Linked DNA regions of Homo sapiens. The protein of the gene in region 3 interacts with the protein of the main gene of each other region in a biochemical or structural test. Each region holds a gene or a part of one and is shown on either strand. Other genes may lie near its edges.

What was found. Proteins that work in one complex are often made in the same cells at the same time.
Region 1: of the proteins of NMT1 (region 3) and CABP2, one has a biochemical effect on the other in vitro, tested with the Homo sapiens proteins (one study listed by BioGRID).
Region 2: of the proteins of NMT1 (region 3) and FYN, one has a biochemical effect on the other in vitro, tested with the Homo sapiens proteins (one study listed by BioGRID).

What each region holds. Positions count from the first base shown.
Region 1 is NC_000011.10:67,520,440-67,527,507, reverse strand, and holds the start of CABP2 (calcium-binding protein 2), read left to right. Parts: upstream 1-4,061; 5' UTR 4,062-4,167; coding exon of another isoform or gene 4,168-4,181; coding exon 4,182-4,223; intron 4,224-4,791; coding exon 4,792-4,962; coding exon of another isoform or gene 4,963-4,966; intron 4,967-5,525; coding exon 5,526-5,556; intron 5,557-6,348; coding exon 6,349-6,483; intron 6,484-7,068.
Region 2 is NC_000006.12:111,660,446-111,667,470, reverse strand, and holds part of FYN (tyrosine-protein kinase Fyn), read left to right. Parts: intron 1-5,523; coding exon 5,524-5,732; 3' UTR 5,733-7,025. UniProt on the Homo sapiens protein: Non-receptor tyrosine-protein kinase that plays a role in many biological processes including regulation of cell growth and survival, cell adhesion, integrin-mediated signaling, cytoskeletal remodeling, cell motility, immune response and axon guidance.
Region 3 is NC_000017.11:45,099,301-45,106,325, forward strand, and holds part of NMT1 (glycylpeptide N-tetradecanoyltransferase 1), read left to right. Parts: intron 1-104; coding exon 105-213; intron 214-3,650; coding exon 3,651-3,821; intron 3,822-4,408; coding exon 4,409-4,576; intron 4,577-5,558; coding exon 5,559-5,696; intron 5,697-6,318; coding exon 6,319-6,339; 3' UTR 6,340-7,025.

The DNA.
Region 1 (7,068 bases), on a different chromosome or scaffold from region 3:
TCAAATCACCTACCCATCCTTCCAGCCAGCCAGCCATTCACCTGTCCATCCATCCAACTTCTCATCTACTAACCCAACTATCCATCCTCCGGTCCATCCATTCATCTATCCATCCATCTGTCCATTTAAACACCAGTTCATCAAATTATCCACCCATCCATCCAACCACCCATTTTACCCAACCAACCATCCTTCTACCCATCCTTCCCTCTGTCTACCCATTAGTCAAACCCCTGATCCACCCATCCTGGACACTGGAGCCAGGACCCCAGCTTGGCTAAGTCAGGCTGGGCAAGTTGAGGGCACCAAGATGAGAGCTCCAGGATGCTGCTGATTGAACACAAGCAGGGGGATCTCCAAGCCAGGCTTTCTCCTCCACTTAGACACAAGGCCTTTGCTCCCTGACTGAAAACTTTTTTACCCCCTATACTCTGAGTGGTTACAGACCCCACTGTTTTGGATTATACTTTGGGACATACATTTCTCACCATTTTCCACTTTCAAAGATGGTTCTTTAGACCATTCATCACGTGTGGTGCCCACCACGTTCTGCACCTTCCTATGTGCCAGGAACCTGCCAGGTCCTGTCATCTAATTTCCACAATGGCACTGGGAGGCAGATGCTAGGTCAACCTCCACTTTTCAGATGACGAAACTGAGGCTCAAAGAGGTGACATACCTTTCCCAGGGTGACACGGTGTGTGCATGGGGGAACCTAGGCCTGCCGGCCCTTTCTGTGGTCTTGCAGAGGAGAATTTCTGTCTCCGATGAATGTTTTCAGAGACGTTACCGCCTGGGAAACCAGGCCGCTCCTGCTCTCCATGTGCAGAGGTGGGACTGAAGGACACTGAAGGCTGAAGCAATGGGAATGATCACAACCAGCCTTTCCACTCACTTCTCAACCCCGGCCTGTCCTCAGATGTGGAGGCTTTCCTCTGTCTGTGAGGCCACCCCCTCCCTTTGCTCAGCCATTCCCATCATCCTCTGCTCTTGGCTAGCATGTCAGTTCCTCAACCCCATCAAGCAAGGCCCTCCCTCTTTTTTTTTTTTTTCTTTCTTTCTTTCAAGACAGAGTCTCAGTCTGTCACCCAGGCTGGAGTGCAGTGGGGCGATCTCGGCTCACTGCAACCTCCACCTCCCAGGTTCAAGTGATTCTCATACCCCAGCCTCCCGAGTAGCTGGTATTACAGGCATGCGCCACCACGCCAGCTAATTTTTGTATTTTTAGTAGAGATGGGGTTTTGCCATGTTGGCCAGGATGATCTCAAATTCCTGACCTCAAATGATGCGCCTGCCTTGGCCTCCCATGGTGTTGGGATTACAGGCGTGAGCCACCACGCCCGGCCAAGTCCTCCCTCCTGAGAACCTTGGCCCTTCCTGCACTTCCCTGGCCACTGTCATTCTGGTTTGCTGAATAGGCATCTCCCAGCAGGTGAAAGGTTCCAGGATGTAGGGACTAGTTCCAGCACCCAGGAAGGTACAGAGCAGGGGCCGGACAAACGTTTGCTGCAGATTCAGCCTCTCAAAAATTTTCTCTGACCTCCTGCCACCTATACCCTCTCCAGAGGCCACTAGCCCCTTCCTCCCTCCCAAGGGCCTCCATCCAACCCACCTGCCAGGTTCCAGCTCCTGGGGCACTCCAAGTTCAAGGCTGATCCGTGCCAGGGACCCTGGCTCTCTCCCAGGGCCAGGCACAGGTTAAACATTGATAGGCAATGCCTGCAGCATTGCCTTATCCCCTCACCTCCTCCATGAAGCCTCCCTGATGCCTGGGCCAAGGACCCCAAGTACTTGGAGACTGTCTGGTGGCTCTTTTCCTGGTTAGACATGCCTGAGAGTGGGCTTCTCTGGACAGATGGGGTCTGTCACATAGCCCCAGAAGCTGGCCCAGCCAGCCTCAGCTGTTTGCTGAGGGAATACATGAATAGATGGCCGCATGTGGCTGAGAGAGGCCAGAGCCACCAGCTCAGGTGGCAGCACCTAGTGGGATCTGGTTCCCTTAGACAAAGGCCAGTGTGGGGGACAGATGAATAAATCATGAGGGGCCTGGAATGGAGCCGGGGCAGGATGATGACCTCATTCTGGGAGTTGAAGAGCGGGCAGCTGGGTGGGGAGTGGGCTGGGGTCATGGCAAGGAAGCCTGAGAGGCCAGCAGGGGCTGCCCGGCCCACCTCCACCCCTTTTCCTTGAGAAGCAAGAGGTTGAAGGTCAGCAGGACCAGGTGGAGGTCCTGGCAGAACGCAGGGAGGTGGGCAATGCAGAGGGACCCTGGGGAGGAGAGGGGGCTAGCACAGAGGGACCCTGGGGAGGAGGGAGGGAAGGAGGGGGCTAGCACAGAGGGACCCTGGGGAGGAGGGAGGGAAGGAGGGGGCAGCACAGAGGGACCCTGGGGAGGAGGGAGGGAGGCAGGGAGGTGGGCAGCACAGACGGACCCTAGGGCTCTGGGCTGGGGAGATGGGGAAGGCCTTTCCAGAATTCTGGAGCTCTCCTGGGAGCGGGATGGTGGGGAGAATAGGAAGAGCAAGGAAGGACAGACAGAAAGACCAATGCAAGAAAGGACCTTGCAGCAACAGAGGGAAGGAGCCAGCAGAGAGATGGGCTGAGTGGGTCAGAGACGGCAGAGACACCACTGGATCCAGACTGACAGAGATGGCGGCGAGTCAGAGGGGATGGAGACGGGGCTGCAGGCAAAACAGACACAGAGGCAGAGGGGGCACAGAGGGGCAGGCGGTGAGATGGAAACTGAGCAAGGAGGTGTGTGGGGCATCAGGTGCGCGTGAGCCAGAGAGATGCAGGCAGAACACTGCGGGGGAGGAGGCCAAAGGCAGGCAGGAGGGCCGACCACTGGGGCCACAAGGATGATCAGGTGGAGCCCCGGGCACAGTCTGTGACCAGCATGAGGGGCTTCACCAGGCTGACAGGGCCACACGAGGGGCCACGGGGAGCTAGGGAGGATACAAGACTCTGGGGACACGGGGCTCTCCCAGTTTATGGAGGAAGGGACAGAAAGAAGAGTAGCAGGGACCCAGGCCACACCTGTGGCTGCCCACAAGACCACTCTCCCGCAGGACTGGGGAGGCCGGACGGAGCAGCGTCCCTCAGCCAGGAGGAGGTACCAAGCCCTCATCTCCATGGCCCAGCCCCAGGGCCCAGCAGAGGGCAGCCTCCCAACGGGGGACCCCAGCCCCTCTGAGGGCACTCCAGGAACCAGCCAGGCCCCTGGCAGCCCAGCAGCCACCCGGCGACGAGAGCTTCTCCGGGAGCTCGAGGCCCAGGTGCAGGCAGCCTACGGGCAGGTAATGCGGGCAGGGGTATGAGGGGACCAGGAACAAAGAGCAGGGACCCCACACCCCAACTGGGGGCCCCGGAGGACAGACCCAGGACTTAGTCCAGGGAGGGGACCAGGAGGCAGAGTCCAATGGGAGACTCTCTGAGGTCGGCAGGGCCGGGGTGGCTTCCCTTCCCAATCTCCACCCTCACCGAGCCCTGTCACTGCCCACAGCACATAGGCGGTTCCCTTCTGCTCCTCATCCAAGGGCGGGGCACCAGTCCAGGCAGGGGGAGCCAAGTGCAAGCAATTGGGGCTACCCCGAGGTGAGGAGCCCAGGGCCCAGCTGGGGTCCTGGCAGGGAGAGGCAGGGGCTTCCTGGGCTGAGCCAAGTGGCTGCCTCTTTCTGGGAGGCTGTGTGGGAAGGCCCGCGTGTCCATACCAACCGGAATCTGTGCCATTCGGAGGGCCCAGCCCACCCTGGCACACTGCACGCCTGCCTTCCTCCTCCTGGGACCCAGGCCCTGCTTCTGAAGACATTAAATCTCCCCTGATTGGGAGAGATTAGAGGCAGGGGTTGGGGGAGGGTGCTGGAGAAGGGGCGTCTGGAAGACCCTCAGGAGGCAGTCTGGGGAGGCTGTGCTCTCCAGGGGGCCTTGGGCCCAAGTGGCTCCCCTCAGCAGCGGAGACGCTCAAAGATAATCCCGGATTAGGACCCAAGCCCCAGGCCCAAGTCCCCCGCCTGCCCACCCGCCCCCGATCTTCCCCACAAAACCCCAGGAAAATCCCCGGCAGTACTCCCAGGCTCTCATCGGGAGCAGCTGGGGGCTGGCAGGAGTCCTCAGGCAGCAGCATCCGCCGAGGCCCACCCGGGCCACCCCCGGGGTTCCAGGCCTGGCATGGTTCAGGGCCCATGGGGAACTGTGCCAAGCGGCCCTGGCGCCGGGGCCCTAAGGTAGGAGGGGTCAGGGGAGAAACCCAGGCCAGGAGGCTGGAATGGACCCTGAGGGTCAGATGGGATGGGCAGAGCCCTCCGAGGGCCGGGCGGGGTTGGGGGCTGCCCACTGCCCCAGGTGGAGATTTTTTTCCTGGAAGCCACAGCCTCTGGCCATCCTGATCTTGGCTCCCACCGACCTCTGGGTCTCCCCTGCCAGGCTCCAGGTCCCCCAGCTGCCCGTCCAGCTGCCCCATCCCGGCTGCAGGTCCCCGCTCTCTGCTAGCCAGCCTCCATCTAGGAGACAGAGCTGGGCACAAGGTCCCTCTCTGCCGCTGGCTTTCTCAGTGGCCTTGGCCAAGTCTCTTGCCTTTTCTGGTCCTCAGTTTGCCCAACAGAACAGTTAGAGGATTGACCCTTTCTGCCTAAAGAGTTCACGGGTGAGGGTCCTCTCTCTACCCCCCAGCCCCTTCCCTACTGTCCCATGCCGGGCTCCAAAGACAGGAGCAGCTGGTGAGAGGAGTGGGGAGGGCTATCAGGCCCAGAGCTCAGCGGCCACTGCCCCAGCTCACGGCCGGCTCTGCTGCAGGACCCCTTGCAGTGGCTCGGCTCCCCACCAAGGGGCTCCTGCCCCAGCCCCAGCTCCAGCCCCAAGGAGCAGGGGGACCCCGCGCCAGGCGTCCAGGGCTACTCGGTGCTCAACAGCCTGGTGGGGCCTGCCTGCATCTTCCTGCGGCCCAGCATTGCCGCCACCCAACTCGTATGTACGGCCACCCGCCCGCCAGCCTGCCTGCCCTTGCCCCTCTCCCACCAGCTCACCTGCCCTTGCCCCTCGCACTCCAGCCCACCTACCCTTGCCCCTCGCTTTGCCTCTCCTGGAGCTAGGGGGAAGAGGATTGAGTGGGGACATCAGAGCAAAGGTACACAGATCTGGGGTGGGGGTGCAGAGAGGGGAGAGAGCAATGACTCTAGAAATGGAAGAGAGATCAACAGTGACATTGAGGCTGGCGGGACCAAGTCTGAGGTTCTGCCCAAACCCCAGATCCACCACCAGCAAAGGGAGCCCCCTGCCCCAGAAGAGGGTGATGGAGTAGGTGAGGACGGCCCAAGGAGTGACCTAGGCCAGAAGCAGGGAAGGGGGCACCCGGTTACCCAGGCCAGTGAGTAGGATGGGGTGGGAACCAGGGCCGAGCAATCAGACAGACACAGGCCCTGCGTGTGCGTGTTGGATTGTGGGGCTGGGTGGGGAGCCCCGGGAAGCAAGAAGGAAGGGCACAGTCATCAGTAGGAGCAGGGAATTCCTAACCCCTCTGTGCCCTTCAGGACCGGGAGCTGCGGCCCGAGGAGATTGAAGGTAAAGGGTTGGAGAAGGAACTGGTTCCCTGAAGGGGAGGTGGCATGGGGGGCATGGGGTGGGGACACAGGGTTGGGGGGGCATCGGGTGGGGGCCTCAGTGTTTCCAGGAGGAAGTGGGAGCAAGAAGGCTGCAGGGGACCAGTTTAGGGAAATGGGGACAAGACTGAGCAGGGAGGGGATGACAGACCCCCACCCAGCTGTCATTCCTTGGTCTCACTCACCAGGCAGGTGACAGGGCCCCTTTTATATTTGTTCATTCAGCTGACACTTCCTGGGTGCCCACTGTGTGCCTGGCCCTGGCTGAGCACTGGGAAACATGGCCAGCTAGACAGATATGGCCCGTGCCCTCTGGAGACCAACGTCAATTAGTCAGCTACAAGTACAAATGGTGCATGTGCTCTCCAGGAAAGGGACAAATGGGCCGGGGGAGGCCACATGTAGAGGGATGGCTTCCTTTAGTAGGTGACATAGGACCAAAGAGGAAGGGGAAGAGTGAGGAAATCTCCAAGAGGTCAGAATTTGTTTCCCCCACTTTCTTTCTTTCTTCCTTTTTGAAAAATTTCACTGCTGTATCCCCAGTGCCTAGAGCAGAGCTTGGCACATAGTAGATGCTCCTCAAATATTTGCTGAAAGAACAAATAACAGGAACAGCACGTGCAAAGGCCCCGAGGCAGCAAAGAGAATCTGATGTTCAGAAGGAGGGATGATTGGACCAAGGGAGAAGGGTAGGCGGGTCCAGGCCAGGATCAGGGGGTTGTGGGGGAAGGACTGACCCCACCCTGCCTGGCAGAGCTGCAGGTCGCCTTCCAGGAGTTTGACCGAGACCGGGACGGCTACATTGGCTGCCGGGAGCTGGGTGCCTGCATGCGGACCCTGGGCTACATGCCCACCGAGATGGAGCTCATCGAGATCTCACAACAAATCAGTATGTGCCTCGGACCCATCCCCATCCCCAGTCCTCCAGATGCCCCCGCTGGGCCCATGAAGCCAAGCAGTCCAGGTACACAGGTGACTGCACAGGCTGTCCCCAGAGCCCATGACCTTGGTCATTCTCAAGGCAAGCTCTCTGCCTCTGGAGAATCTCACCAGCTTCTAGGAGGTGGGCACAGCAAGGACTGTGATCCTCATTCTGCAGATGAGGCAACTGAATGGCTAAGTGACTTGTCTAAGGTCACACAGCAAGTTCCTTGGAGCCAGGACTTGAACCCAACCGAAGAGTTCAGGAAAATTAAGGAAAGTTCCAAGAAGTTTTTTGGTTTTTTTGTTTGTTTGTTTTTTGTTTTTTGTTTTTTGTTTAGATGGGGTCTTTTTCTGTCACCCAGGAGTGACAATGGCGCTATCTCGGCTCACTGCAACATCTGCCTCCTGGGTTCAAGCAATTCTCCTGCCTCAGCCTCCTGAGTAGCTGGGATTACAGGCACCTGCCACCATGCCCAGCTAATTTTTGTATTTTTAGTGGAGACGGGGTTTCACCATGTTAGTCAGGCTGGTCTCGAACTCCTGACCTCAG
Region 2 (7,025 bases), on a different chromosome or scaffold from region 3:
ATCAGCCTGGGCAACATAGCAAGATGCTATCTCTACAAAAAAAAAATAAATAAAAATAAAAATCAGCCAGGCATGGTGGTGCATACCTATAGTCCTAGCTGCTTGGGAGACTGAAGTGTGAGGAGGATCGCTTGAGCCCAGGAGTTCAAGGCTGCAGTGAGCCATGATCATGCCACTGCACTCCAGGCTGGGTGACAGAGCAAGACCTTGTCCCTTAAAAAATTTTTTTTCAAAGAATCTAAAAGGAAAAAGGGAAGACTACTGAGTTCATGTACAGCTCAAAGAAGTGGAATAGGGAAGTTTAAAAGAAAAGGGAAAAGAAAACACACACACAAGAATAGACACTGTTGGCAACCCTACAGAGTCAGAGTTTGAAAGTGAGAGTTGGAAACTTGACCTCTGAGTTTGCTGGAGGAAGCCAGCAACATGATTTAGAAAGGATAATATAATCATAATGGCAGGAAGTGAGCACAGTCTTCTTGGCTGGAGAATCTCAGTTGCAGTGTTTGGGGCAGACTGACTGGAAATGATGCTATGTCGGGGACCATGTTTGAAAGCCTAAAATCTGAGTTGACAAGGAGATGTTCCATGGAGGCTCTGGGAAAGAGGGACTCGAAGGCAGACCCCCACACAGCGGACTAGTAAGGTCTCGCTCTGTCACCCAGGCTGGAGTGCAGTGGCACCATTTCAGCTCACTACAGCCTCAACCTCCTGGGCTCAAGCAATCTTTCCACCTCAGCCTCCTGAACAGCTGGGACCACAGGTACATGCCACCATGCCCAGGTAATTTTTGTACTTTTTGTACAGACAGGGTTTTAACATGTTGCCCACGCTGGTCTCGAACTCCTGAGCTCAAGCGGTCTGCCTGCCTCAGCTTCCCGAAGTGCTGGAGGTGTTTTATGGATTGAGTACTGTTCAGTTGTACCCTATGAAAGTGACCCACCACAATGGCCTGTTTTCCTGAGCAATTCTAGAGAGACAGCAGAAGGGGCTGGTGGCTCCCGTGAGGCTAGAAGGGCAGAACAGCAGAGGAGGAGAGGGTTGGAACAAAATTGGGCAGTGGCCTCTGTGCTTGCTGGCTCCCCAGCCCCAAGCCGCCTCTCTGTGGGAACCAGGGAACATTCATACTGCTCGAACGTGGCTCTTCCCACAGTCAGACACCACTGGCCAGCCAGGATCTCCCCTCCTGTTGAAAAATGCTCTCCCTTGCAGCTCCCACTAGGAAACCTGGAAGGCCAAACTGTTTATGACATTGTTTCCCTAAAATGTGCTCAGACACCATGTTTTATAAAGTTTCTGTCTCTTCTTTCTGTTAAGAAAGGAGAAAAAGGATCCCAGCTACTCAGGAGGCTGAGGCATGAGAATTGCTTGAACCAGGGAGGTGGAGGTTGCAGTGAGCCGAGATTGTGCCACTGCACTCCAGCCTGGGCAACAGAGCGAGACTCTGTCTCAAAAAAAAAAAAAAAAAAAAAAAAGGAGAAAAAGGAAAAACATTTCCAGCACTCTTGTCCACCTCCTCAGTTGGAAGTGTAATAAAAAGATTCTTCTGGCTGGGCATGGTGGCTCACACCTGTAATCCCAGCACTTTGGGAGGCCGAGGTGGGCAGATCACTTGAAGCCAAGAATTCAAGACCAGCCTGGCCAACATAGTGAAACCCTGTCTCTACTAAAAATATAAAAAATTAGCCAGGTGTAGTGGCATGCACCTGTAGTCCCAGCTACTCAGGAGGCTGAGACAGGAGAATTGCTTGAACCTGGGAGGTGGAGGCTGCAGTGAGCCGAGATCACACCACTGCACTCCACCCCAGATGACAGAGCCACGCTTCATCTCAAAAAAAAATAAATAAATAAAAAATAAAAGGATTCCTCTCTCTAGTGTACCCATGTCTCTCAAGACACTCTCCCAACTGCCCTGGTGCCCAAACTCGTGTTTATTCCCTTCCTATTCACTATCCTTCACCTCTCAGGTATTAGGTAAAGCCAATGTCTTGGGGAAAAGTGGCTAAAAAGAGGAAATGACAGTTTTCTTTCTAACAAAAATATGAAACCATCTAAGAAGAAAAAAATGAAGTAGACCTATCTTTTTGTTAGTGTGCAGAGTAAAAGCCATTTAAAAAAAATTATTTAAAAAAACCATGATTTTCAAAATTCATATAGCTGAGAATACTGTATTTTAAATACAGGTTAAGTATCCCTAATCCAAAAATATGAAATTCAAAATGCACCAAAATCTGGAGCTTCTTGAGCACTGACATAACACGCAAAGGGAATGCTCAACTTACTGGTTGAGCAGCCCTATAATGCAAATATTTCAAAATCCTAAAAAATCTGAAATTTAAAACACTCCTGATCATAAGCATTTCAGAGAAGGGATACTCACCCTGAATTAACACAATCCATTCAATTTAGCTATTGTTTATAAAATAAAAACTAGCCCAAGCCTTGCTGAGTGGGCATATCTTGATTGCCACCGTTATTGTTGCAGAGGTACATTGTGAAGTTGCCAGGTCTGCAGGTCAGCCCGTTGCAGGTCCTGGTTTATGGATGGTTGGAAAAGAGCTAGTCCCATTCCAATTGTCATTGTCAGCCAAGTGCATTGTCAAAATATCCCACTTTCCTGGCAAAGCCCTCATTGGTATGTTTCCACTTGGCCCAGTGCGTGGAATTGTTTTCATATACTCCCCTTGCTTTGAGAGGTCTGGGCAGAAGAAAGCAGGAGAAGAAGAGGAGTGGGGAAGAGCGGAGGGGTGCAGACAGGAAAGGGGAGAGCGAGAAGGAGCCTGACCATGTGGGTCTGCCAGGACCCTGCATGGGCCAGCTTATGCCCTGTCCCCTGGCTCCAAATGCCCAGGAAAGACTGCCTCGGGAGACGCTACATGTTGAGGTTCACATCACCAAGTGTGCTGTGTCTGAGGCTTGGACCGAGCACTGGAAAAATGACCCAGTGGCCAATTAAACTTTCCATTGGCAGACATTGGATGAAAACTTTTTTTTTAAGTGAAATCTTTCCATTTGAGTAGTTTGTTTTTTAATGAAATGAAACATGTACTGACATGCGCTCTGTGGAGCAATAGGAGAGTGATTAATTAAACTCTGTGCTGCCATTTTGGAGGGAGGCACTCAGAGCCAGAGTCAAGCATTAGGAGGCGTTTCAGGGGCTGTAACCGCACCCAGAAGGATCTGTCAGGCCCTTCTGCCTGTTTCCCCTCAGTTCCTGTGGACTCCTGGAAGGGACAGAGACAAGGGAGATTTCTGCTGGTCCAAGCTCTGTCATTGCTGAAATATGAAACCAAGGACAGTACTAAAAGATGCGGCAAGGCAAATGCTTTGGAGAGTGCCAGTTCTGCTACGTGATTACACACTCTTCCTAATCTTTCTGGGCAATATGTATGAAGAAATAAAAACAGTAAATAGCCTCGTAATCAGTTCAGGTTTTGTGGCCAGATGAGGTCAGTTCAGATCAGTTCTGTAGTCAAGTGAGTTACAAAAACTTGATGGTGTTCAGAGCTCGTTGGATGGTGGAATTGTGGAGAAGGAAATGCTGGCCTCTGTCCGCGTTTATCTAGAGCCGGAGGAGGCTGCCTTTCATTCCCGAGCATGCTCCAGTTCCTCCCTTGCTTCCAGCTCCCCGCCCCCATCCCCCATTTTCAGCCATTGGAGGAGGATGTAGGCTAATTAGCCACAGCGCTGCCTCTCACTCCTCCCATGCAACTGAGGAAGTCGCTGGTAAAGGCATGCATGGCACAGAGGCAGGGACCCTGACTCCTTCACCAAACCTCTCTCCCTAAAATAAGGGGTCGCCCTGACACGTGAGTGAGGTTATTTTACAATAATTGCATTGAAGGCCTACTTCAGTACAGCAGAAACAATATGTGAATTTTTATTACCTCAAGAAATGATAATGGCAGAGAATAAGAAAGCATCCTGAAAAGGTCTGGAGAGACATGTGACTGACAGGCTGTGGTTGACAGCCAGGAGGAGCCAGGATACACTCAGCTCCACAAGTAACAACACAACCAAGAGGACTGGCAACAGACCCCGAAGTCCGAGTGTTCCCTCTGCAGGGGGACAGGCTGTGCTCTGGCCCAGCGCCTCTGGCTGTGCTGACAAGTTTCTAGCTAACGGGTCGCCACCTCCCCTAGAAGTAAAGGAAGCTCCATGCATATGGTGTGTGCTCCTGCTGGCTGTAGCCCTGGGAAATAGGGGAAGAAATCTTGGTTTCTATATGGCTTGACATCGGGTTCTTGCTCCTGCAAATTAACCGGGTCAGATACTGGGGAGGATTCCAGATGACAGCCTCACCGGCCAGGAAGCAACCAAAGCACAGCACAGCTTGACGGGGAGCTGGCAGAAGGTGATACAATGAAAAAGGGAAGCAAAACTAGAGAATAGTGGCTGGCAGTAGTTGGGAGGAGGTCAGGACACTGGCCACCCCCTAAGCATGGTAGTTCCTGTAGTGTTAAGGCAGCCAGTGTGCAGGAGGCCGCACTCTCTGAGGAGTTAGCGATCTGTCTTCTGTTAGTGCTATGCAGCCCAGTGTTTCAACAGCTTCCCAAGAGTCAGAAAAACCTCAAATGATGGATGGCCTGGCTGAAGTCATCAGTAGAGATAGGCCCCGGACATGGTCTATCTCCCCATCAAATTCACCAAACCTCAGGGCACTGTGGGGTTGCAGGGCCAGACAGTGCCCAGCCACGCTGGCATGATGGCAGATCTCCAACAGTGGGGAACTAAGAGTTTGCCCAGGCATGAAGAAAACGAATTTATGAAGTTCATAAATGGAGTTTATAAATGCTATAAACAAGGGGCAGCATGCTTTCATTCTGTGTGGATTTTTTTGTCTGCTTTATTCATATATTGTTGTCAGTTTAATTGAAGTATAATCTACACACAATAAAATTCAACAATTTTAAGGATGCAGTTTATTGAGTTTTGACAAACATAAACAGTCACACCACCCCATACATAATATAGAACAGGGGTTGGCAGGTCTGGCTCCCAACCTGTGTTTGTTTTGTACGTTTTTAAAGGGTTGTTAAAAAGAAGAAGACAGGGATCATATGTGACCCGCAAAGCCAAAAATATTTACTGTCTGGCCTTTTACAGGAAAAGTTTGTTGACCCGTTGACCCTGACAGAACATTCCCATCCCACTTGGAGTTCCCTCTGGCCCCTTGGCAGGGATTCCTCCCCTCCCCCAGGCAGCCACTGATCTGCTTTCTATAGATGTAGTTGCGCCTTTTCTAGAATTTCGCATGAATGAAATCATACCGTATGTTGCCTGTTGTGTCTGGCTTCCTTCACTTATCATGTTTTGAGAGTCATTCTGAATTTTTCATGTCTCAGTTCTGCACTCCTTCTTTACTCCTGAGTAGCATGGCAGGGTTTGACTCCTGGGGGGATGGGAGTACTCCGCATGTTTTAGCCACATGCAGACGCAAAGAAGAAGAAAGGGGATCTGCAAGTGCGGCGGTCAGGGCCTGGATCCCCGGGGTGCCCACTCTCACTGCGCTTGTCTTTGCAGGCATGAACAACCGGGAGGTGCTGGAGCAGGTGGAGCGAGGCTACAGGATGCCCTGCCCGCAGGACTGCCCCATCTCTCTGCATGAGCTCATGATCCACTGCTGGAAAAAGGACCCTGAAGAACGCCCCACTTTTGAGTACTTGCAGAGCTTCCTGGAAGACTACTTTACCGCGACAGAGCCCCAGTACCAACCTGGTGAAAACCTGTAAGGCCCGGGTCTGCGGAGAGAGGCCTTGTCCCAGAGGCTGCCCCACCCCTCCCCATTAGCTTTCAATTCCGTAGCCAGCTGCTCCCCAGCAGCGGAACCGCCCAGGATCAGATTGCATGTGACTCTGAAGCTGACGAACTTCCATGGCCCTCATTAATGACACTTGTCCCCAAATCCGAACCTCCTCTGTGAAGCATTCGAGACAGAACCTTGTTATTTCTCAGACTTTGGAAAATGCATTGTATCGATGTTATGTAAAAGGCCAAACCTCTGTTCAGTGTAAATAGTTACTCCAGTGCCAACAATCCTAGTGCTTTCCTTTTTTAAAAATGCAAATCCTATGTGATTTTAACTCTGTCTTCACCTGATTCAACTAAAAAAAAAAAAGTATTATTTTCCAAAAGTGGCCTCTTTGTCTAAAACAATAAAATTTTTTTTCATGTTTTAACAAAAACCAATCAGGACAGGTGTTTGTTTTTGTTTTCTTTTTTATAAATATGAATATATATAATATATATGTCCCTGTACATATACAATGTGGGTGCTAATGTGGAGACTGTGGCCGGCCTGAGCCACCAAGCTGCGGGACCCAGAGGGAGGATTTTACTGCAAGTCAGCATCAAAGCACCGGTGTTATTCTGAAAACACCAGTGGCCTCATTTTTGGCTTTTGCAAAGCATGAATTTTTTCATTTGGATTGCACTTTCCTGGTTCATGACTGTACCTGTAGGTGGTTGTTACTTTGACTCTTTTCAGGAACCACCCCCCAAGCTGAATTTACAAGTTCTGTTAGCACTATTTGCTTCAACTTACTGCGATTTGTTCTCAAAACTTAAAAATAAGCAAGCAAATGGCTGATACTACCAAGAGAACTGGAAGATGGATACCACACAAACTTCTTGTATAAAAATATGAATGCTGAAATGTTTCAGACATTTTTAATTTAATAAACCTGTAACCACATTTAAGTGATCTAAAACCCATAGCATTGTAGTCATGGCAACCCGCTAAACTTTCTCATGCAACTAAAATTTCTGGGGGAAATGAGGGTGGGGGTTGTACATTTCCCATTGTAAAATAAGTGTTTTAAATGTCCTGTACTGCTAACGAATGACTTTCTATATGTCCAGGAGTTCTCCAGTGGAATAACTATGCACTACTTTACATTTCATGGGGATGCACAAAAACAAAAAAGTATTACATTTTTAGTTGCTGTTTGTACCAACCTTAAATTACATATGTTTAACAACAACAAATCAAAAATCCTATTTCTATTGAGTTTTTAATACTGACT
Region 3 (7,025 bases):
TGTGTCTCTCACGCCACCTGCTGGCCAGCTGGGGTCTCCCTGCCATTGTCCTTGTAATAGGGATTGGCCAGAACCCTGAGGACAGGACATTTGTGTCCCCACAGGTATTGGCATCGGTCCCTAAACCCACGGAAGCTGATTGAAGTGAAGTTCTCCCACCTGAGCAGAAATATGACCATGCAGCGCACCATGAAGCTCTACCGACTGCCAGAGGCCAGTGCTGCCCCGGGTGGTGGGCAGGGGGCAGAGAGAGGGCAAGGAGAGCCTGGCTGTCAGCAGGAGAGAAGGGCTCTGGGTGGAGAGGGAGCTTTCTCCTACTGGAAAAGCGAACCAGCCCATAGTCTTCAGATTTCCTGGACTTTCTATTTCTGTTATCTGAAGCAGGATTTTATTTTAGTTTAACTTTCTCAGTTCCTCTGAGTCTGTGCCTGGACTAGCTTCTCTGCCATCTGTTGAAAGGCTCAGAGAACACCTATTCTCTGTAATTTTAGCCTAAGTAAAGCATAAATAGAATGATGAATCCACTTAGTGAACCTTCATACACACGGCAGCGCGTTCCAAAGCCCAGCGCAGATGCACTACAGGGTCTGTGACGCCCCTCTGCCGGGTCAGGTAAAGGGTGACCTGAGCTTGTGAGGGATCCCCGATTTCTAATCCCAATTTCCCCACCCAGATTTGGCTGAAGGACTGGGCAACCTTAAAGTGAGCTGCTTTTCTGTTCTGGGTCTCAGTTTTCCTAGTTTCCCAAAGAAACAAATGCTCCAACTGTGGCTGGCTTCAGGTAGGGATTCTTTTTTTTTTGTTTTGAGACAGGGTCTCATTCTGTTGCCCAGGCTGGAGTGCAGTGGCACAGTCACAGCTCACTGCAGCCTCGACCTCCCAGACTCAACTGATTCTCCCACCTCAGCCTCCCAAGTAGCTGGGACTACAGGCGTGTGCCGCCATGCCCGGCCAATTTTTGTTTTTATAGAAACGGGGTTTTGCTGCCAGGCGCAGTGGCTCACGCCTGTAATCCCAGCACTTTGGGAGGCTGAGGTGGGCAGATCACGAGATCAGGAGATCAAGACCATCCTGGCTAACACGGTGAAACCCCGTCTCTAGTAAAAATATAAAAAATTAGCCAGTCGTGGTGTGGTGGGTGCCTGTAGTCCCAGCTACTTGGGAGGCTGAGGCAGGAGAATGGCATGGACCCGGGAGGTGGAGCTTGCAGTGAGCCAAGATCACGTCATTGCACTCCAGCCTAGGCGACAGAGCGAGACTCCGTCTCAAAATAAAAGAAGCCTGGGCGTGGTGGCTCACGCCTGTAATCCCAGCACTTTGGGAGGCCAAGGCAGGCGGATCACGAGGTCAGGAGATCGAGACCATCCTGGCCAACACGGTGAAACCCTGTCTCTAATAAAAATACAAAAAATTAGCTGGTCGTGGCGTGGCGGGCACCTGTAGTCCCAGCTACTTGGGAGGCTGAGGCAGGAGAATGGCATGAACCTGGGAGGCGGAGCTTGCAGTGAGCCAAGATCGCACCACTGCACTCCAACCTAGGCAACAGAGCAAGACTCCGTCTCAAAAAAAAAAAAAAAAAAAAAAAAAAAAAAAAAAGAAGGCCAGGCGCGGTGGCTCACACCTGTAATCCCAGCACTTTGGGAGGCCTAGGCGAGTGGATCACGAGGTCAGGAGATCGAGACCATCCTGGCTAACATGGTGAAACCCCGTCTCTACTAAAAATACAAAAAAAAATTAGCCGGGCTTGGTGGTGGGCGCCTGTAGTCCCAGCTACTCGGGAGGCTGAGGCAGGAGAATGGCGTGAACCCGGGAGGCGGAGCTTGCAGTGAGCTGAGATAGCGCCATTGCACTCCAGCCTGGCCCACAGAGCGAGACTCCATCTCAAAAAAAACAACAACAACAAAAAAAGGATTTTGCCATGTTGCCCAGGCTCATCTGAATTCCTGGGCTCAAGTGATCCACCCACCTCAGCCTCTCAAAGTGCTGGGATTACAGGCATGAGCCACTGTGCCCATCCCAGTAGGGATTCTTAAAATCCCTTCTCAGGTGGGCGGTGGCTCACGCCTGTAATCCCAGCACTTTGGCAGGACAAGGCGGGTGGATCACGAGGTCAAGAGATTGAGACCATCCTGCCAACATGGTGAAACCCTGTCTCTACTAAAAACACAAAAATTAGCTGGGTGTGGTATGTGCCTGTAATCCCAGCTACTTGGGAAGCTGAGGCAGCAGAGTTGCTTGAACCTGGGAGGCAGAGGTTGCAGCGAGCCGAGATCGCACCATTGGACTCCAGCCTGGCGACAGAGCAAGACTCCGTCGCAAAAAAAAAAAAAAAAAAAAAAGGAAAGAAAGAAAAAATCTCTTCTCTTTCCTCGGAGTGCTTCTTCCTATTGGTCATCAGTGCACACAGTCACTGCGTTCCTGCTGACATGAGGCTGCCTGCCTGGACTCCTCAGCCTCTAAACAGGATTGATCACTCTGAAATCAGGCTAATCCACCTAGTGATTGGGGTCATTAGTGTCCCATCTTGAGAGACTGCTGCAGTACCGTTAGACACTGCCAAAAGCACAGGCTTGGGGGACTGTGGTATGTGTCTTCTCCCTTCTGTTCTCATGACAGATCTGCCTTGCGTTCTAGGCCGGTGGGCAGGCAGGCAGAGAGCATTCTTAGAGTGCTGCAGCAGCAGAAGAATGTCTCACCCATGTCTGGGTGGAAACCCCAGCATGGCTGTGTTTTCAGTCCAGGATTTGAGGTATCATTGTGGGAGCTGCCATGTAGAATGAGGTCATTGAGCGTTCCCCTAAAGAGACGAGGATTTAGCAAGGAATTTTAGAGGCTGGAGGTTCTAGAACTGAAGTTTTAAAAGCAATTCCTGCACTGGGAAGCATTGTGTCAGGCACTGACTGAGGCCTGTAAACTGTGACACCACCCTGTTTGCAGATTGCCCCAAGGCCACCTTTGTGTATCTGAGCCTCTGGGGATGTTCTACCAGCCCCGGTATTTGCTCCACAGGATCACATGGTTTCATTCCACTGAAGCATTTTTCTAGCAAAAGCAGCTGCCGGGTGGGACGCTGACTGGGGATAAAATCCTGGGAGTATGCTGCTTTTCTTCTGAATGTAACCCACAGCCGTGTCTCTCTGGGAAGTACTGGTGTAATAGTGTCTGGGTGGGCAGACCCTGGCTGGGCCCTGGGGTCTGTCCGCGAAGTGCTCTAAGTCTAGCAGAGAAAGAGCAGTGAGTGTGGGATGGCATCAGTCACAGTTCAGTGAGAAGCCTGTGAGGACTGTTGGGCTGCGTGGGCAGAAGGTACAGCTAGAAAGGCCAACCTGGCCCAAGGGTAGAAATTCTTGTCTTCTGGGGTGGGGAGTTTGAAACAAGGGTGGAGCATGAAGGGTTGTGTTTTCTTAGGGAGTCAGCCTGGGGCCATGTAGATGGTTGATTGATGTAGCAGTCTGAGTCTGCCTGGACTAGGAGGGAAAGGGCCAGAAGATACGGAAGAGGCAGGCCCTGTGCCTGAGGAGATATGCACGGGGGTGCAGGGAGCCGCCGAATGACCAGGGATTCTCTCTTGAGGGCCTGATCTGTCCTTGCCATGGATAGATCCAGGGTGATCAGCTCATCTCACTCCATCTCTTCTGTCTTGCCTCCAGACTCCCAAGACAGCTGGGCTGCGACCAATGGAAACAAAGGACATTCCAGTAGTGCACCAGCTCCTCACCAGGTACTTGAAGCAATTTCACCTTACGCCCGTCATGAGCCAGGAGGAGGTGGAGCACTGGTTCTACCCCCAGGAGAATATCATCGACACTTTCGTGGTGGAGGTGAGTCAGGGAGTGGTGTTCCAGGTCTCTAACACGTTCCCAGAGAGGCACCCCCCTGAGTGGCCGGGTTCCCAGGGCTCGAGTGTTGGCACCTTAGACTTCCTTGACCATCCGTGTTTGGTCCTCCCTAAAAACAGGGAGTTGGTGCTTGAATTTGCTGAAAAGATACCTCTGGATCTGGCTTGAGCCCTTCTCCCCCTCTGCCCCACTTTGATAACACAAAATAGAGAGAACTGAGCCCCGCTTAATCCTTCAGGAAAGCCTGCAATTCCCTGCCTGTCCCAGCTTAACCCAGTGCTGACCAGACATAGGAGACACAGTCTGGGGGGATGTGAGCTGCAAGAAGAGGTCCCTGGCGGTGCCCATGCTGGGAAAGAGGTCTGGCAGGTTCAGCCCACGATCACGGCTCTGTCCTCAAGTGCCCTGAGCCAATGTCCCTCCTCCTCCCCACATGTCCTGTTGCAGTTTCCAGCCATTTATCTAGAGGGGCAGAGCTGCCTGAAGGTGGAGTGAGAGAAACATTTTGTTCCCGGGCCGCAGTGCCACTGTGCATGCTTGACATTGCCTCTTTATTGCCTTCCCTTCAGAACGCAAACGGAGAGGTGACAGATTTCCTGAGCTTTTATACGCTGCCCTCCACCATCATGAACCATCCAACCCACAAGAGTCTCAAAGCTGCTTATTCTTTCTACAACGTTCACACCCAGACCCCTCTTCTAGACCTCATGAGCGACGCCCTTGTCCTCGCCAAAATGGTGAGGAGCAGACGGGGGGGTCTCTGGAGATGTGCAGGGAAGAGGCAGTGGAGCCATGGTGAGCACAGCTCCCGGGACGCAGCCTCCCATGGGCTGGAGGCTCTGAGCCCTCCTCATCTGTTCTGCTTAGGCAGGGTTCCCGCAGTTTTTAGGCAGAAACTCAAAACTTGGAGGGAACAAGGAGCATCCGAAGTGAAGGCATTGAACTCCTCCTGATTCATTTCAGTGAGTTTCGTTCTCACAGGAGGCGCCACCAAGGAGCCTGAATAGCCAGGCCTTCCCTGGGAGGACAGGGCTTCTCCTCACAGCTTTCCCAGCGTGGGAAAGGGGTGATTGCTGTCTGTCGTGGTGAGTCATTGGAGCATCCAACTGCCAGTAGCGGATGGCGAGCCCGTCTGTCAGTGCTTTGCTGTGGGTTCTGGTAACCTGTGCCCAGCCCAGCCCAGCCTGCTGTAGGCAATCTGGTCCCTGCCCTGTGAGAGCTTCTGCTCCAGTTGGTGAGGTTTAGGAAGCATCTTCACAGTCTCCAAGCAACACAGCAGGTGTCATACAACATGAGGTGCACTGAGGGCCTGAGAGTTGGGGCATCCATGGAGTAAGGAAGCAACACAAACCCCATGTAGCTGACCAGAGCCAGCTTCTCAGAGGAATGGGCTCAGGGTTTGGACTCCAGAGAGGACTGTGGAAATTACTAGAGTTTCAGGGAGGCATAACCAGGAATAGCAAGAGCCCCGGCCTGGACACTGAGTACATATGTGTACACTCTGAGGGACACTGGGCAGAGGCCAGGCTGGAGGGGGCGCTCAGAGTGTCCTGAGAACCACCCGGAGAGCGGGGATTAACGTGGAAGCAGCGGAGCTTCTGAGGGAACCTTGTTCTTGTGGCTGCCCACAGGACAGCTTTGAAATGGCAGCAAAGGGGTAGGAAGGAGGCTGTCCCCACCTGTCCTCACCTGTTCTTGTTTGTCCCTGCTGCTTTGCAGAAAGGGTTTGATGTGTTCAATGCACTGGATCTCATGGAGAACAAAACCTTCCTGGAGAAGCTCAAGTTTGGCATAGGGGACGGCAACCTGCAGTATTACCTTTACAATTGGAAATGCCCCAGCATGGGGGCAGAGAAGGTAGGCGACACATAGCCAGAGTCCAGGCTGCCCGGCCCAGGGTGTCCATGTCTCCAGCAGAAACCGGGCCATGGGTTGAGGAGACAGCCGCAGTCTGGGTCCTTGTTACCTCGAGTTGAACCTTTGAAAATGCCCTCCCTCTGCTGGCCAGACCAGCAGGTCAGCGTTCCCCTCTCAGCAACTGGTGTGAGGATGGCAGAGGGGACAGAGCCACACAGTAGCACGAAGATCATCTCCAATGAGGCCTTCCCACGTGAGGGAACCGTGGAAGTTGAGTTGCCCACGGTTTGCCAGGAGGGTAGGGCTGGGGGAACTCTGAGGAGGTTTCCTCTCCTGAGCTGCTGCCCTCTTCTGGCATGACACTTTCTTAGCCCTTCCTCCCCCAGTGCCACAGGGGACATAGGGGTGAGCTGGAGCGTGGGCCAGTTTTCCCTGGGAGGTCTGATGGACGTGTGAACCCTGGTGTGGAGGTTGAGTGTGGGGCCGGCTGGGTGTGAGTCTGCTCCCACAGCACAGGCGGTGGACCCGGGCCCAGCCACTCGGAACTTCAGGGATAGGGGGTGTGGGAGAGTCTTTGGGCCACTGTCAACTCAGCTCTGCCTCTCCCTGTTGGCTTTCCTAGGTTGGACTGGTGCTACAATAACCAGTCACCAGTGCGATTCTGGATAAAGCCACTGAAAATTCGAACCAGGAAATGGAACCCCACCACTGTTGGTCCAATTTTCACACACGTGAGAATCCCTGGCAAAGGGAGCAGAACTGAACCGGCTTTACCAAACCGCCAGCGAACTTGACAATTGTATTGCGATGGCGTGGGCTGCGTGACGTCACCTCCGGTCGTGTCTCTGGTCTCCGTGTTTTCCAGTTAATTACATCCTCATGCAGCCGTGATCAAGGGAATGTAACTGCTGAAAACTAGCTCGTGATTGGCATATAATGGAGTTAACGGGTGAATAATAAAAGTATATATATATATTATATATATATAAATATTTTAAATATCTTTCATGTTCCAAATGTACAAGGATGTTTGGTCTTTAATGAAAAGCTGAATCCAGATCATTCCTCAGAATGAGGACCCGAGGACAGTGGCAGACAGACGCGTTGGCACAGTTCATGGTTTCCTCCAGAGGAGACATTGGCTTATCATGGGGAAAAAGAGGATCTGGAGAACCTCATCCAGCTCCCCTTCTGAATCAGCTGGGATGACTGGCTTTGAGAAGGAAGGGAAGATGGAACAGGCTCAGATCTCATGGGATAGCACGTGGAGCTCTTGGCTGGGGCTGACCCTGGGCAGGGACTTTCCTGCAGGGCCAGACCTGCCTGCAT